2 linked regions of the Homo sapiens genome follow. The protein of the gene in region 1 purifies or fractionates together with the protein of each later gene. This does not show direct contact. Each region holds a gene or a part of one and is shown on either strand. Other genes may lie near its edges.

Evidence for each region. Proteins that work in one complex are often made in the same cells at the same time.
Region 2: the proteins of CARD6 (region 1) and RIPK2 purify together in Homo sapiens (affinity purification with western blotting; 2 studies listed by BioGRID and IntAct, with this or other methods). This does not show direct contact.

What each region holds. Positions count from the first base shown.
Region 1 is NC_000005.10:40,836,660-40,844,381, reverse strand, and holds the start of CARD6 (caspase recruitment domain-containing protein 6), read right to left. Parts: upstream 3,016-7,722; 5' UTR 3,000-3,015; coding exon 2,717-2,999; intron 1,231-2,716; coding exon 673-1,230; intron 1-672. UniProt on the Homo sapiens protein: May be involved in apoptosis.
Region 2 is NC_000008.11:89,752,813-89,760,817, forward strand, and holds the start of RIPK2 (receptor-interacting serine/threonine-protein kinase 2), read left to right. Parts: upstream 1-5,003; 5' UTR 5,004-5,248; coding exon 5,249-5,421; intron 5,422-8,005.

The DNA.
Region 1 (7,722 bases):
GGCACCTGTAATGCTAGCTACTCAGGAGGCTGAGGTAGGAGGATCACCCGAGCCTGGGAGGTAGAGGCTGCGGTGAGTCATGATTGTGCCACTGCACTCCAGCCTGAGTGAGACCCTGTTTAAAAACAAATTTTTTTTAAATAAAGAAATATTCAGATTCAAGATACAAATATAATTCTCATCAAGATGGCATTATGTGGACTGGATCAAGCCAAGTAACAATATTTTGGGATCTTAGCCATTTACTGACTGTTTTCACTTAAATAGTCAAACCCATAATCCCCATATCTCTCTGGTCACAAAGGCACTAAAATAACTAAAGTGGTTTAACCTGAGAAATAGGTTAGCCTGAAATTAATGATTAGCAACTCCTCGTACGTATAATGGGAAATTAATGATTGGCAACTCCTTATACGAACTACAGAAATTTACAAACTGACAATCAATATTTACTTTTGCTTATGCTGTCCATCATTTCCTAGGTCCTGGGAGCTCCTTTAAGTCAACACCTACCTCGAGGAGATTCCAGGTCAGAGAGGCACGAGGAATTTCTTAGTAGTTGATTTTCTGCTGACATCTGTCCCTTTTTCATCCCCCATCCCCATTATGTCATGGCAAGCTTATTAACTTATTAAGTTGTTGCCTAACTAACTATACAAGATATTTCCATACCTTCTATACTTTTCTCCTGTTCCTCCTCCAATGAAAGGCTGGTTTCTGATCCCTCATAACTTGGTTCTTCACCAGAGAACTCTGTGGTTTCTGAATTCTCGAAGTCCTCTTCACCATCATATCCAACGTGCTCTGGGTCATCATAAACCTCCTCTTCCACAGTGGCTTCTGCATCTTCAGGGGTGTCAACAGATCCTAGATATTCCTCTTTTCCTAAGTATAAAGAATCATCTAGCTCCTCATATCTCTGTCCATCTTTTATATATGTAATAGTTGCTGGAACTTCACATCCAACTTTCTCAACTGAATATGATAATGTGACTTCTGGTGTGTCATATTCCTTCTCATTCTTCCTGGCAGACAAAGCTGTTTCCCTATAACTAGTTTTCTTGTCCCTGAAAAACTCAGAGGTTTCCAAATCCAAGTGTTCCTTCTCACTGAAGAACACTGTGATCTCAGGGGCTTCAGGCTGTTTTATTCCAGGAGAAAAAGCATCTTCTGAATTACTGCTTGCCCCCATAGATTGAGGAGGTACTGTATTCTCATGTTTTAAAACTTCTGCAAAGAAAAGAATTGTTTTTCCCAATTAAGAAAAAGAAGCTGTATAACAGCTAGAGTTCCTGAGGCCTCAAAGCTTCATCCCTCTCCTTTTATTTATTTATTTATTTTTTGAGACAGAGTTTCACTCTTGTTGCCGAGGCTGGAGTGCAATGGCACGATCTGGGCTCACTGCAACCTCAACCTCCCGGGTTCAGGTGATTCCCCTGCCTCAGTCTCCCAAGTAGCTGGGATTACAGGCATGCGCCATGATGCCCAGCTAATTTTTGTATTTTTAGTAGAGACAGTGTTTCACTATGTTGGTCAGGCTGGTCTCAAACTCCTGACCTCAGGTGATCCATCTGCCCCGGCCTCCCAAAGTGCTGGGATTACAGGTGTGAGCCACAGCGCCCAGCCACCTCTTATTTCACTGGAGGACAGGAATACCTAACACCTCCTATATAACTTGCATGTCAACATGTCAACTTTCAGAACTTTCTTTTTTCCACTAAAAAAAAAAATCAGATCACACCACTGTCTTGCTTAAAGTTTGAGTCCTTCCTAGCAACCTTACAGGGTAAGTGAATAAAACGAAAAATTTGAATCATATGAACAGTGTTTACTTGTGGACTTACTGTGACTCACAACAGACTCACGTCTCTTGGGGTCATTGCTAATGAAATCTGATCACAAATAATTTCTAATCAGTAAGCAAATGGCTCTATTTGGAATAGTGTGCTTTAGAAATAATAAAAGAAAAATTTCTAAGCATATAAATCTTGTCCTAAATTAGGTATCACTAACATTCACCTTTTTATCTGAGCCTCTACCTCTCTAACATCCCTTAAAATAATTTTGAATTTTTTTTTAGATTCCTAGAAAAAGAGCTAGACCTAGTCCTAGTAGTAATTTACAGAATTGCTAAATAACTGGAAGAATTGCTTTTTCATGGACTACTAGTTATCTTTGAACCATTTAAGAATTAGCACTGGAATTGCTCCAGAAAACAGCTGCTGCTGGCATTCTTATCACCAAAAAAATGAAACTACTGATTTGCCATCTATGTGTTAAAAATTATTTTCCTTGTATTTTCAAAACGGCTATACTAAGTGAAAGATACAGCTTGTGGTCTTGGCACTGTAAATATCCACGAATTCATCTACTTGAAAAACAAACCCTGGATTGTGTTATTATTAAAGTATTTTCCTTCCAACTGTGAGATTTTAGCATGTTACTGCCAGAATAATGAGCAGTTTGTTAGCACTAAAACAACTTCAAGTTTTGAGTACAGTCTGAAAAACAAATTATCGATTCAGTAGACCAATAAGATGTTAAATTTCAGAAACTTTTTAAATTCCAGTTTTTCCCTATTTCATATTTCAATGAAAATTATCTCCAGAAAAAGACTAACAAAAATAAAAGGCAACAATTTTCTTTCATTTTGTTTTCTTTTTCAGAAAGTCTGCCCCCTTCCTCTCACCCCAAAAAGTATACAAAGTCAACTTACCATGCCTTAAGCCGCAAATGGCAGCTGACTGTGGAAAAGTACTAAATAAACACTTGAGAAAATGCTGACAGGTCGCCTCTCCCTTTTTCTGTACCAAAATTAACAGCTTCCGACTTTTCTTCAGGAGATCTGTAACATTCTCCAGAGTCTCATACTCTTCCTCAGAAATCAGCCTCCGAGAAGTTAACGTGTCTAAGATAGAATCAGGATCATGTTGAAGGATTTCAAGCAACTTTTTTCTTTCTCTTTCTATGATCTCTGAGGGAGTACTCTCGGTAGCCATTGTTCCTGTTTCCTCTAAACCAGGAAATATATTATGAAATCATCCTAATGAATAAGTAAAAGTTAAAAAAAGAATGACAAAGAACAATTCTATTTGGCTAAGCTTTAACATGTCAATGATGCCTAGTGTTGGAGAGTGCAGATACAAGCACAGTGGGGCAACCCAGCTCGGAGCACTCTCTGATCCGGGGTCCTTGTGGATTATTTATCTGCTCTTTTGAAGTCTTGATAAATTCTCACCATGACTCAGACCCAGGGTCACCTCCTCCAAGAAGTCGCTCTTGAACTTCAGGTTGGACTAGGTATTCCCTGCTCAGAGAACTATACTATGATGCCAAGAATGTAAATTATTAATTGATATTTGGTGGGCAATATGGCAATATACAGCAATAAATAAATAAAGTTGAAGACAGACAAAAATAAAACTTCATATCCTTCAACCCAGCAATTCCAGTTCTAGGAAATTATCTTAAGGAAATAATTGAGCAAATGCCCGAAGATGTATGTACAAGAATCTGCATTACAACATTGTTTACAACAGTACAAAATTGAAAATAACCAAAGTTGGGGTTTAGGGAATAAATATTGACATGTCGACAGTGAAACACCAAAGAACTGTTAAAAAGGATAAAGTACATCTCTACATATTGACAAGTAATGATATCCATGATATATTGCTATGGAAACAGCAAGTTATAGATCTCATTTTTGTTTTAAAAAACTTAATGTGTATATAGTATATGTATATAATATGTATATGCAGATATGCATTATATTTTAAAGAAGACAAGAGATATCCCAAATTTTAACACTGGTTATCTCTGAGAATATGACTACAGGGAGATTTATACTTCCACTTTAAACATTACTATTTAATATTTTACATTTTTGGTTTTTTATTATTATTTATTTTAAGAAAATTACCTGGTTGGTCTTTATTTACTCCTTCATAGTTCACAAGAACCTGAAAGCGATCTGCATAACTAGCAACAGGATACTGGATGAATAAACTGTGATATTTCTTATAACATAATATTACATGGCATTCAAAAAGAATGAACTTCAGTGACCCACAATATAGAGAAATCATAACAATAGTAAGGAAAAACTGTAAATCCCAAAAGATTATATACAGTATGACAACCTTTTTAAAAGTTGAAAATAAACACACCCTTACATTTAAGAGTATACATGAAGTCATTAAAATTATACAAAACAAAAAGCAAAGAATGATAAATATGAAATTCAGAATGATGGTTACCTCGCATATGGGGAGCTTGGGGATGGGATGGGATTGGGGAGGAGATCATGGATGTCCTACAATGTAGGAGTTGGGCCTATCAGGGCTACTATATTGTTAAAGGTAAATAGCTAATATGTAAATAAAAGCAGAACATGCATGAACCAATGCTATTAGGAACCAAGGATAATGAGTAATACAATTCTGGTATCTCCAAGGTTAAAAAAGAATTTTAAAATCCTGGCTGGGCGAGGTGGCTCATGCCTGTAATCCCAGCACTTTGGGAGTCTGAGGAAGATCACTTGAGACCAGGAGTTTGAGGCCAACCTGAGCAACATAGCAAGACCCTGTCTCTACAAAAAATTTAAAAATTATCTGGTCGTGATGGTGCGCATCTGTAGTCCCAGCTGCTTGGGACAGGAGGCTGAGGCAGGAGAGCTGCTTCGGCCCAGAAGTTTGAGGTTGTAGTAAGTTACTCTAGCCTAGGCTCTTAAAAAAAAAAATCCTCATATGATATTAAAAATTAATATTAGGTAAGAGTTTTATAAAATTGAAGAGTTTTAAAATTTTTATTTACTTTGACCAATTATAATCATATATAGTTATGGGATATTCAGTAATTTTATATGTATGCAGTATGGAATGATTCACTCAAATTAACATATACATCACCTTCAATACTTATAATTTATTCCTCCTGTCTGTGACTTTGTATCCTTTGACCAGCACCCTTCCCTTCCCCGCAACTCCCAGCCTCTCTCTGGTAACCACCATTATACTCTAGGTAAGAGTTTTAAAATATGTATCTCAAAAGTATGGCTTTCAAGTGATGCATCCCACCTCATGTCCACAATTTGATTGGCACTGTCATAAAGATTGCCAATTTTTTGTTGTTGTTGTTCAACTTGACCAGGAAGGTACTTTAATAACAGGTGTCCCAAACCACCAGTCTCCTCTCCAATGCTCAACCCTAAATATGCTCCTTTCTCACAGTAACCTTTCTGAGATTTCAAAGCCAATGGGAAAAAAGTGTTCACTTGAAGTGGGAAACTTAGCACTGAAATTTAAACTTCTTTCTACAAGTTTTCCTTTTGTTTTGTTTTGAAACAGAGTCTCACTCTGTTGCCCTGACTGGAGTGCAATGGTGCAATCATAGCTCACAGCAGCCTCAAACTCCTGGGCTCAAGCAATCCTCCCCCCTCAGCTTCCTGAGCAGCTGGGAGTATAGGCTTGCGCCAACCTGTTCAGCTCTTTTTAAAAAAAAAATTTTGTGGAGACAGGGTTTCACTACATTGTCCAGGCTGGTCTCGAACTCCTCGGTTTAAGCAATCTTCCCGCCTTGGCCTCCCAAAGTGCTAAGATTACAGGCGTGAACCATATTTTTTTTATTATTTGTAGAGATGGGGTCTCTCTATGTTGCCCAGGCTGTCCTGGGCTCAAGTGATCCTCCCACCTTAGCCTCCCAGAGTGCTGCGATTACAAGTGTAAGCCACCATGCCAGGCTGTCTAGTTTAAATTGTTTGTTGATGGCCGGGTGCGGTGGCTCACGCCTGTAATCCCAGCACTTTGGGAGGCTGAGGTGGGCGGATCACCTGAGGTCGGGAGTTCAAGACCAGCCTGACCAACATGGAGAAACCCCATCTCTACTAAAAATACAAAATTAGCCGGGCATGGTGGTCGATGCCTGTAATCCCAGCTACTTGAGAGGCTGAGGCAGGAGAATCACTTGACCCCGGGAGACGGAGGTTGCGGTGAGCCAAGATAGCATCATTGCACTCCAGCCTGGGCAACAAGAGCAAAACTCCGTCTCAAAAAAAAAAATTGTTTCTTAATAACAGAAATTTGCATACCACAGCCTTAGAATGCAAAGGAAGTGAGGTGGGGGAAGGATGAGTGTAACCAGGATGTTCTCTATTATATAAAATATAGCCAGGAGGTACAAAATTGAAAGTATAGACCTCAAATCAGAATAATAACACAGGATTAAAAGTTTTAAATGTGTTCTATTTTATTATTGTTGTTTTTTGAGCTTTTTTTGTTTTGTTTTGTTAGGCTAGTCTCGAACTCCCAACCTCAGGTGATCTGCCTGCCTCAGCCTCCCAAAGTGCTGGGATACAGGTGTAAGCCACCGCACCCAGCCTTATTATTAGTTGTTGTTAATCTTACCGTGCTAATTCATAAATTAAACTTTATCATAGGTATGAATGTACAGTAAATTCTCCCTTGAATTGCTCCTAATGAATTTATGTGATGTTTTAAAGACAAAAGTCAACAGTAATTTCATGTATTGTAGAAATAAAAAGAGGCAGGTCTCAGTGCTGAGTCCTGGTGGTCAAGAGACTTGATTGTATCAGAACCATGGATGCAGGACTTAACATAGTTTCTATCACTGCCAAAAAGCAAAATGTCAGGGGGTGAATGCCTAGGCTAACAGCCTTAGATCATCCGTTTCAGATGTTGATCTAGTCCTGGCTGGGCGTGGTGGCTCACACCTGTCATCCCAGAACTTTGGGAGACTGAGGGGGTGCTGATCACTGGAGGTCAGGAGTTCGAGACCAGCCTGGCCAACATGGTGAAACCCTGTCTCTACTAAAAATACAAAATATTAGCCAGGCGTGGTGGTGGCGTGCGCCTGTAGTCCCAGCTACTTGGGAGGCTGAGGCACAAGAATTGCTTGAACCCGGGAGGTAGAGGTTGCAGTGAGTCGCGATGGCACCACTGCACTCCAGGCCAGGTGACAGGTGAGACCCTGTCTCAAAAAAAAAAAAAAAAAAAAAGTTGATACAGTCACTAGCCCTGACCTAAACCTAGCAATTGTATAGAAAATTGGAGGGTCTGACTAGCCTTCATAGACCTCTTTAAAGAAAGCCAAGGGTTTACTTGATCAGGGCAAAATTTACATGGTTTGACATACACCAAAAAGAACCACCGAACACTAGAGAGAGGAGGAAAAATAATTCTCTCCTGTCTTCAATTCTGGGAATGTCTGGAGTAAAGAGACTGACATAATGCCTGTCACACTGCTTGGTTCCTTAATGGTTGACACCTGTCCTACCTTTTCTACACTGACCTCATTTCTCATAGTCCCCGTGGTAGGCAGAATAATGGCTGTCTCCAAAGATAACAAGGTATTAATCCCCTCAACCTACGAATAAATTAGGTTATGTGGCAAAGGACAATTATAATTGCAGAGGGAATTAAGGTTGCTAATTAGCGAAACTCGAGATAAGGAAGTTACCTGGATGGAGTCAATGTAATCACAAGGGGCCTTAAAAGTAGGAGAAGGATGGCAGGGCACCCGAACCCTTTGAGAGACCAAGACAGGAAGATTCAGGAGTTCAAGACCAGTCTGGACAACAGTGAGACCTTGTCTCTACTACAAATAAAAATAAAAGGAAAGGAAAAAGAATAAGACAGATGCAGAATAAAGAGTAATGCAATGTGAGAAAGACTACAGTAGTCTCCACTTATCCAAGGTTTCCCT
Region 2 (8,005 bases), on another chromosome or scaffold:
CCTAAAATAATACATACAGGTATAAATAACCCTTATCTCACGGAAAAACAAATATTGATGTAATTTTATAGAATTTTGAACAGATGAAATCAACATATAGATGTGATTCTTGTTTTTTAAGCCTACTTTGCGTAAATATTCTAATATTTTCTTTCTTGTTTAGTTGATGTATTTCAGCATCGATATCCCTTAAACTTTCTATCTTTAGCCAATTAATTGTGGGAATTGAACTATATGTATATGAAGAAATATATAATTTAATTAATTCCCATATATGACTAATAATATATGTTTTTAAAACTGTATACTGGTAAAACCTATCATGAAAGCTAAAGGTTTAAGGTGGTGATTAAAAAATATTTAGAAGGCTTGTGATAAAAAGAATCTTAGCATTTACATGAATTTAGAAGCACCGAACACTTCAGGAATCAGCAGACCAACAACGTACTATCCATCTTTAAAAGGAAGGAAAGTAAGTGTGTGGAGAAATAGCTATTTTCATCATCTACAGGAAAAGAAAATTAGTATAACTTCAATGAAGAACAATTCAATGACATCAACCAAAGTTACAAACCAACATACTCTGATCCTGCAATTTGGCTTCTGGAATACGTAGATATATATGTATGAAATAACATAAGCAAAAATTAACTATTGCAGCATTATCTGTAATAGCATATGTGTGAAAACAAAGTAAATGCCTATCAATGGGGGATAAATTATGGTATATCCATCAGCGTCTAGAAAATAAAAAAGATAAGAGAGCTTTTTATGCATTCATATGGAAAGATATCCAAGATACATTAAGTGAAAAGTAAGCAAAGTAGACGAGTATATAGTGTTATAATAATTACATAAAAGGGACAGATATTTTATATATATATTTTATATATAATTTATATATAATTAAATGTAAACATGCACACATAGTATATATATATATTAATATATAAATATATATTTATATATACATATTTATATATATTTAAAATATATATTTATATATTTAAAATATATATATTTATATATTTAAAATATATATTTAAAATAAATATATATATTTAAAATATATATTTAAAATAAATATATATATTTTAAATATATTTATATATTTTAAATATATAAATATAAACAGAAGTAATATAATATATAAATCTATATTTATATATGCATATACAATATATGCCTATATATATGTGCATGTTTATTTTATATTTAAACCAATTAACTTTTTATTGAAGTACTATATTCAGAAAAGTGAATGTGAGTGTAATCTCCAAGAATTTTCATAAACTGAACACACCCATGCAACTGGCACCTACAGCCTAGGTCCTGAATCAAAAAATAGAACATTACCATCATCCTAAATACCTCATGATTCCCTTCTAATCAATGCCTCTCCCCTACTAGAGAGAAGATTTCTATAAGCATAAGTTAGTTTTATTTATTTTTGTACTTTATACAAATGGACTCATGCAATATGTACTCTTCTGTATCTGGCTTTTTTCATCCAACATTATATTTGTACACTGTTTAATTTCATTCCCATTTAGTATTATATTGCATAAATGTGCCAAAATGTATTTATCTATTCTACTATTTATGGATATCTGGGTAATTTCCAGTTTGAGGCTATTATAAACACCACTGCTATGAACATTCTAGTAGATGCATACACATGTCCACATACCGAAGCAAGGAATTACTGGGTCATAGGATCTGCATATCTACAATTTTAATAGATACTGACATACAATTTACAAAATTGATTGAACCAATCAACACTCCCATGAGCAGTGTACAAGAGCTCCTGTTGCTCCAAATCCTCACTCACACTTGGTATATTCTGTCTTTTTAATTTTATTCATTCTACTGTTTGGATAGTAGTGTTGCAATGTGAATAAAATTTGTGATTCCCTGATAATTAATGATGTTGAGAACCTTTTCACCTCTTTTTCAAGGTATCTAAGTCCTCTTCTCAATTTTTCTATTGCATTATGAGTCCTTATTGTTTTAAATTTTAAACCATGTGATATGGTTTTAAAAAGTAAATTTAAAAGTAATGTAATTAACAATACAAATAAATTCCATGAAGTTCTATGCTTCATGCTCTCTCCTTCTTAGAGATGCATATTAGCATTTCAAAAGTTCTGAAAAGTTCTACATTTTTCACCACCACAAAACAGTTTAGAGAAATGTTGTCTCCCTTCTGATGTAATTTTCATGGAATTAACAATTGTCTCCTTTTTTTACTTGTATTTTTTTTTACAATTCATTCTCCAATTTTATCCCATAGTTCATTAGATCTATCAAACATCTATCAATATAATTTCTCAAATACTCAAAATTAGATAATCTATCATTTCAATTACTGTAACTACTGTTTTCTCTTGAAGTCTGCCATCTCCCTGTTCAGTGAAAATGGGTTGCTCTCCAATTCTGCCATATTTCTCTCATCCTGGAGTTTCCCTTCTTAATTTCCTGGTCCGGTTTTCTGGATCTCATGTCTTTCTTTTTCTTGGGCTACTCCCATGTTTTGCTGAACACATTCTCTAGGAGCTTTCTTTAAAAAAAAAAAATGACATGGAAAGAAAGTATTTCATTCTTGTATATGTGAAAATGTTTTTATTCTGCCCTTACATTTGACGGAAAGTTTGACTATAGAATTCTAAGTTGGAAGTTACTGTCCTTCAGAATATTGGAAAAATTTCACTTCATTATATTTCAGGATAACAATGACTTAGTAACATTGTTAAGAAATTCAATGCCATTCTAATTCCCATCTCTTTAATTTTTGTTTCCGCCCTCTGAAAACGTTTAGAATCTTCCCTTTAGTGTTAGTGTTCTCACCCTTTTAATGATGTATGTGCCTTAATGTAGGTCTTTTTACTTGGTGGGCCCTTTAAATATGAAGACTCCTGCCCTAGCAAAAATTTTTAAATTATTATTTTGATCATTTCTTCCCTGTTTATTTTTTGTTCTCTTTTTCTAGGACTCAGGTTTTTAATTAATTGACTGGATAAACATGTCAGGCCTCTGAGCCCAAGCTAAGCCATCATATACCCTGTGACCTGCACGTATACATCCAGATGGCCTGAAGCCACTGAAGAACCACAAAAGTGAAAATAGCCAGTTCCTACCTTAACTGATGACATTCCACGATTGCGATTTGTTCCTGCCCTTCCCTAACTGATCAATGGACCTTGTGACACTCCTTCTCCTGGACAATGAGTCTCAGGAGCTCCCCACTGAGCACCTTGTGACCCCCACCCCTGCCCGCAAGAGAAAAACCCCCTTTAACTGTAATTTTCCACTACCTACCCAAATCCTATAAAGACTGCCTCACCCCTATCTCCCTTTGCTGACTCCTTTTTCGAACTAAGTCGGCCTACACCCACATGATTAAAAGCTTTATTGCTCACCCAAAGCCTGTTTGGTGGTCTCTTCACACTGACGCGCGTTAACAGAATGAATGGATAGAAAAGTCTTCTGAGTACTTTTTAAGAAAAAAGCTTATTGGCCGGGCGCGGTGGCTCACGCCTGTAATCCCAGCACTTTGGGAGGACAAGGTGGGCGGATCACGAGGTCAGGAGTTCGAGACCAGCTTGGCCAACACGGTGAAACCCCGTCTCTACTAAAAATACAAAAATTAGCTGGGTGTGGTGGCGGGCGCCTGTAATCCAAGCTACTTGGGAGGCTGAGGCAGAAGAATTGCTTGAACCAGGGAGGCAGAGGTTGCAATGAGCAGAGCAGAGATCGCGCCACTACACTCCAGCCTGGGTGACAGAGCACGACTCCCTCTCGAAAAGAAAAAAAAAAGCTTATTAAGCAATAAAGCACAGAGTATCAGACCATATGTTTAGTGCTGAACATTTTATTATAAATGATCAAAAATGTTTAACATACTATTGTTTACAACCTCCCACTACTGTAAAATCTAACATTGCTACTTTCATTTCAGGTAATGCAAAAATACAAGAAGCATTAGCTGTCTGTAGGCAGAAATCTGTTCGAGTCATTCCTTATTACTGAATCCCTAGAATTAATTAAACATCTAGTATGGAGTTGGTATTGTATATAACATTTGCACTCACGTCTTACAAAATAGTCATCTAAGTAGAAAGGTATTCAAGGCAGAAGGATGGAAAAACGTTTGCAGTCTTTTTTGGTTGGCATGAAACACTGACTGCATTCCTCCCAGATTTATAAGAAAGAAATATTTGCAGTCTTACCTGGAGTTAGATGGATGGACTCTCTCAAGGTTATTTTTCAATCTCTGCACATACATACTTATGGAAGTAAGAAAGAAGAGGGAGAAAAGGCAGATCCCCCATAACAGCGGTTAAACACCTGAACTTGCTCCACTATGACAGGGTTTATCATCCACCTCTCAGTCCTCAAGTGGCTGGAAATATGGAAATTGGAGTCCAGGTAGACAGGTGAGTGTACAACCTCTTAAGTGTGGAGCCCTCGGAATTCACAACACTCCCCAAATCGCTTCCTGCGCAGGCGCGGAGTCGGAAGGGAGTCGGAAAGCAGACCCCGGTGCCCCCTAATAAAGCCCCCAGCCGGACGCTGCCGCTACCGGGGTTTGGCAACTTCCGGAAGACCTGTGGCCCAAAGGAGAATCCTGTTGGGGGAGGCGGGGGCCGGTGGTCGCTAACCAATCCGACACCCGCCAGCAGGCTGAAGAGAGGGGCTTTCCCAAAAGGAAAACTTTCCCAAACCTGGGGGATGGGAAGAGAAGACAAAAGGAGCTCCCTTTCCCACTTCCCAGCCGCCCGTCCCAGCCCTCGGCCTCCGCTGCGCGACCCGGGCGGAGGATCCCGGCCGCAGGCCGAGGCGAGAGCCAGGCGGGAGGGCCGCGAGCGGGCTGCCCCTCTCCCCGCCTTGCCGTCCGCCGCTGACGTAACCTGCGAAGTTTGGGGAGGGAGGAGCTCGGGCGGCCGGAGCTGGTCGCTGCGCGCGCCGGGGGGAGGGCCGGGGCTGCGAGAGAGGAAGCTCTTTCGCGGCGCTACGGCGTTGGCACCAGTCTCTAGAAAAGAAGTCAGCTCTGGTTCGGAGAAGCAGCGGCTGGCGTGGGCCATCCGGGGAATGGGCGCCCTCGTGACCTAGTGTTGCGGGGCAAAAAGGGTCTTGCCGGCCTCGCTCGTGCAGGGGCGTATCTGGGCGCCTGAGCGCGGCGTGGGAGCCTTGGGAGCCGCCGCAGCAGGGGGCACACCCGGAACCGGCCTGAGCGCCCGGGACCATGAACGGGGAGGCCATCTGCAGCGCCCTGCCCACCATTCCCTACCACAAACTCGCCGACCTGCGCTACCTGAGCCGCGGCGCCTCTGGCACTGTGTCGTCCGCCCGCCACGCAGACTGGCGCGTCCAGGTGGCCGTGAAGCACCTGCACATCCACACTCCGCTGCTCGACAGGTAGGCAGTCACTGGGGTTCCCTGGAAGAGCCCTCAACTCCTGCATCCCCTCAAGCCCCCTGACAAGCGGGCTCTAGAGCCCAAATGGCAGTGACCGCTTGGGGCCGGCCTCACCTCGTCACCTCTAGGGAGCCCTTCAAGCTTGGGAGATAGGGAGCACCCACCCTTCAAGCTCTGGCACCGTAGGGAGCACAGGCTTCTCTGGAGATGCAGCAGTTGCATTCCTCCACACATCTCTCCATTACCCTTTCTCTCCTTCCCTCTTACTCCTAGGCGTTCTGGCTCCGTACTCCAAAAATCAGCAATCACTGCCTAACTCTAAACGCTGGGTTTACTGAAATTGATGTGTGTTTATATATAGTGGGTGTGGGTTTTGTTTGCTTTGTTTTTTCCTTATTTTTGAAATTGGGCTGTAGGGCTGCACTGTCCAGTAGGTAGCTCTTAGCCACAGGTGGCTATTGAGCACTTGAAATGTGCCCGTCCGAATTGAAGTGTGACCTAAGTGTAAAATACCAGAGTTCGAATGCTTAGTATTTATTAAAAAAAGAACTTATAATATTTTATTATTTGTTTATTGATTATATGCTGAAATAACATTTTTGATATCTTGGGTTAAATATAAGATTAAAATTCATTTTATGTGTTTCTTTTTACTTTATGTGGCCACGAGAAAATTTTAAATTGTATGTGGTGGTGTTCACATTATATGTTTATTGGACCGCACTGCTTTAGAATCAAGGATGTTTTGCTTCTTATTGTTTTTATTTTGGTTTTGGTTTATTATGTGTTGTCAGGAACGTTTTATATCAAACTCAATACTAGCAGTTCAGTTTCTCCCAGTCTCAGTTTCTCTCACAGGGAAGATTAAGTAGAGGAAATGTGTGCTATTTTTGCCACAATAAATTGAACCAAAAGACTGTTAAATGGCCAGAAATTGTAAATGGCTTTCACTTATTGGTTTGTACAGGTTTTAAGGGAAGGTTAGCATTAGTTTCTGTTTTCAGAAGAACATTACAACCGCGTGCCATAGACCTGTGACTGTGTATTAGTCAATGGGTCACTAGTCTTGTGTATTTTACTTCCTACAGGGATTTAACTAGGCCCAGCATTCAGTTCTTAGTGAGTTAACATCCATGATTACAACATTCTCTTCTCCTCCTCCTATATCTAATGTGAAAATACGTCATCCCCGATGCCTGATTGGCCAGAAGCTGTGAGTATCCAGCATCAGATAAATTCCTCAGCTTCCGCCCTGCCAAAGTTACTGGATTTTCACCTGCCTGTGGCTTTTCTTCATTGTCTCTCACTGTCAGGCTTCGATGGCCTAAATGGCACAGGAGATTTGGGACACTTCTAGAGCTTGTTTCCACTTCTTGTCTATCATAATCCAGATTCAGTGATATACAAGGTGTGGTGTCTGTTTACTCCAGGCCTTATATTCTGTGGAGCAAGTGCTGGACAAGTGTGTATATGTGTCTGTAGTCAACTTTTAAGGGTGGTGGTTGGTTAGAGAGGGTGGATATATGTTAGAACCAGTTATGCAAACACTATATGGAAATGTAGCACTGATGGACCCATTAGGTATTGAAAAGCCAATTGATCCTCCCACTTTGGGTGCTGCTTCTCAGGATTTTGATTTATCTAAGCTTTGTGCAGTTTGGGGACCAAGAAGTGAAGAGGGAGTTTCCTTCCCATACTCATGAACAATTTTCATAGTCTAAAATTCTTCACTGAATTGGGTAGGAAATTAATTCTGTCTTCGAGGAAGCCATAAGACCAGCGAAACACTCTGGCATTTACTGCATCACATTCTTTTCTCCAATTTGTTACTTAAGATCTTATCATTGCAGTATTTATGTAGTCTGAGCATTAGATGAGGCTATGCAGTTGACTCACTGGTGTCTCTTTCCTCACTTATAAAATACGAATAATAAATACATGTGTTTCTCGGACTATGGAGAACAATGTTTGCATTGTTCTTTGGGATGACCTGAAAAAAAATAAGTTTATGCAATGTTACATGCTCTTATTTTAATGACTGGTGAATCAGTCTCCATAACCTGACTTCTATCCGATGAGTGGACCTTCCCCAACAATCTTCCCACCCCTTATGAGTAATGAGTCCAATTGGTTGTTCAAATACCCTGTAGATGACATAACTTTTCTGATTAAATTTTTGAGTTAATTTTGGTGATGTGACTATGGAAGCTGTACTTTACACCTTTATTTTCAAAATGTAAAAATCAATTTTTAAAATCTTTTGGCTTTAAAAAAAATTTCCCACTCACTCAATCTTGCCAAAAATCTACCTTCAAGAACTTTCCTACTATATTCTTTGATCAAGCAATAGGGTAGAAAGAATGCAGGCTTTAATGTCCCATGATTGCAATTCAAATCTGACGCCAACCCTGCCACTTATTAGTGTGACCATTAGAAAAGTATTAATTTTTCTGAGCCTTAGTGCCCTCATTTATAAAGTGGAGCTAATGAAACTATGTTTAGAGGGTGATCTTAAGATGCTAGTGCATATAAAGTGACTGACATGTAATAGGGTCACAGTGGAAAGAAGAATGCCTCTTAATGG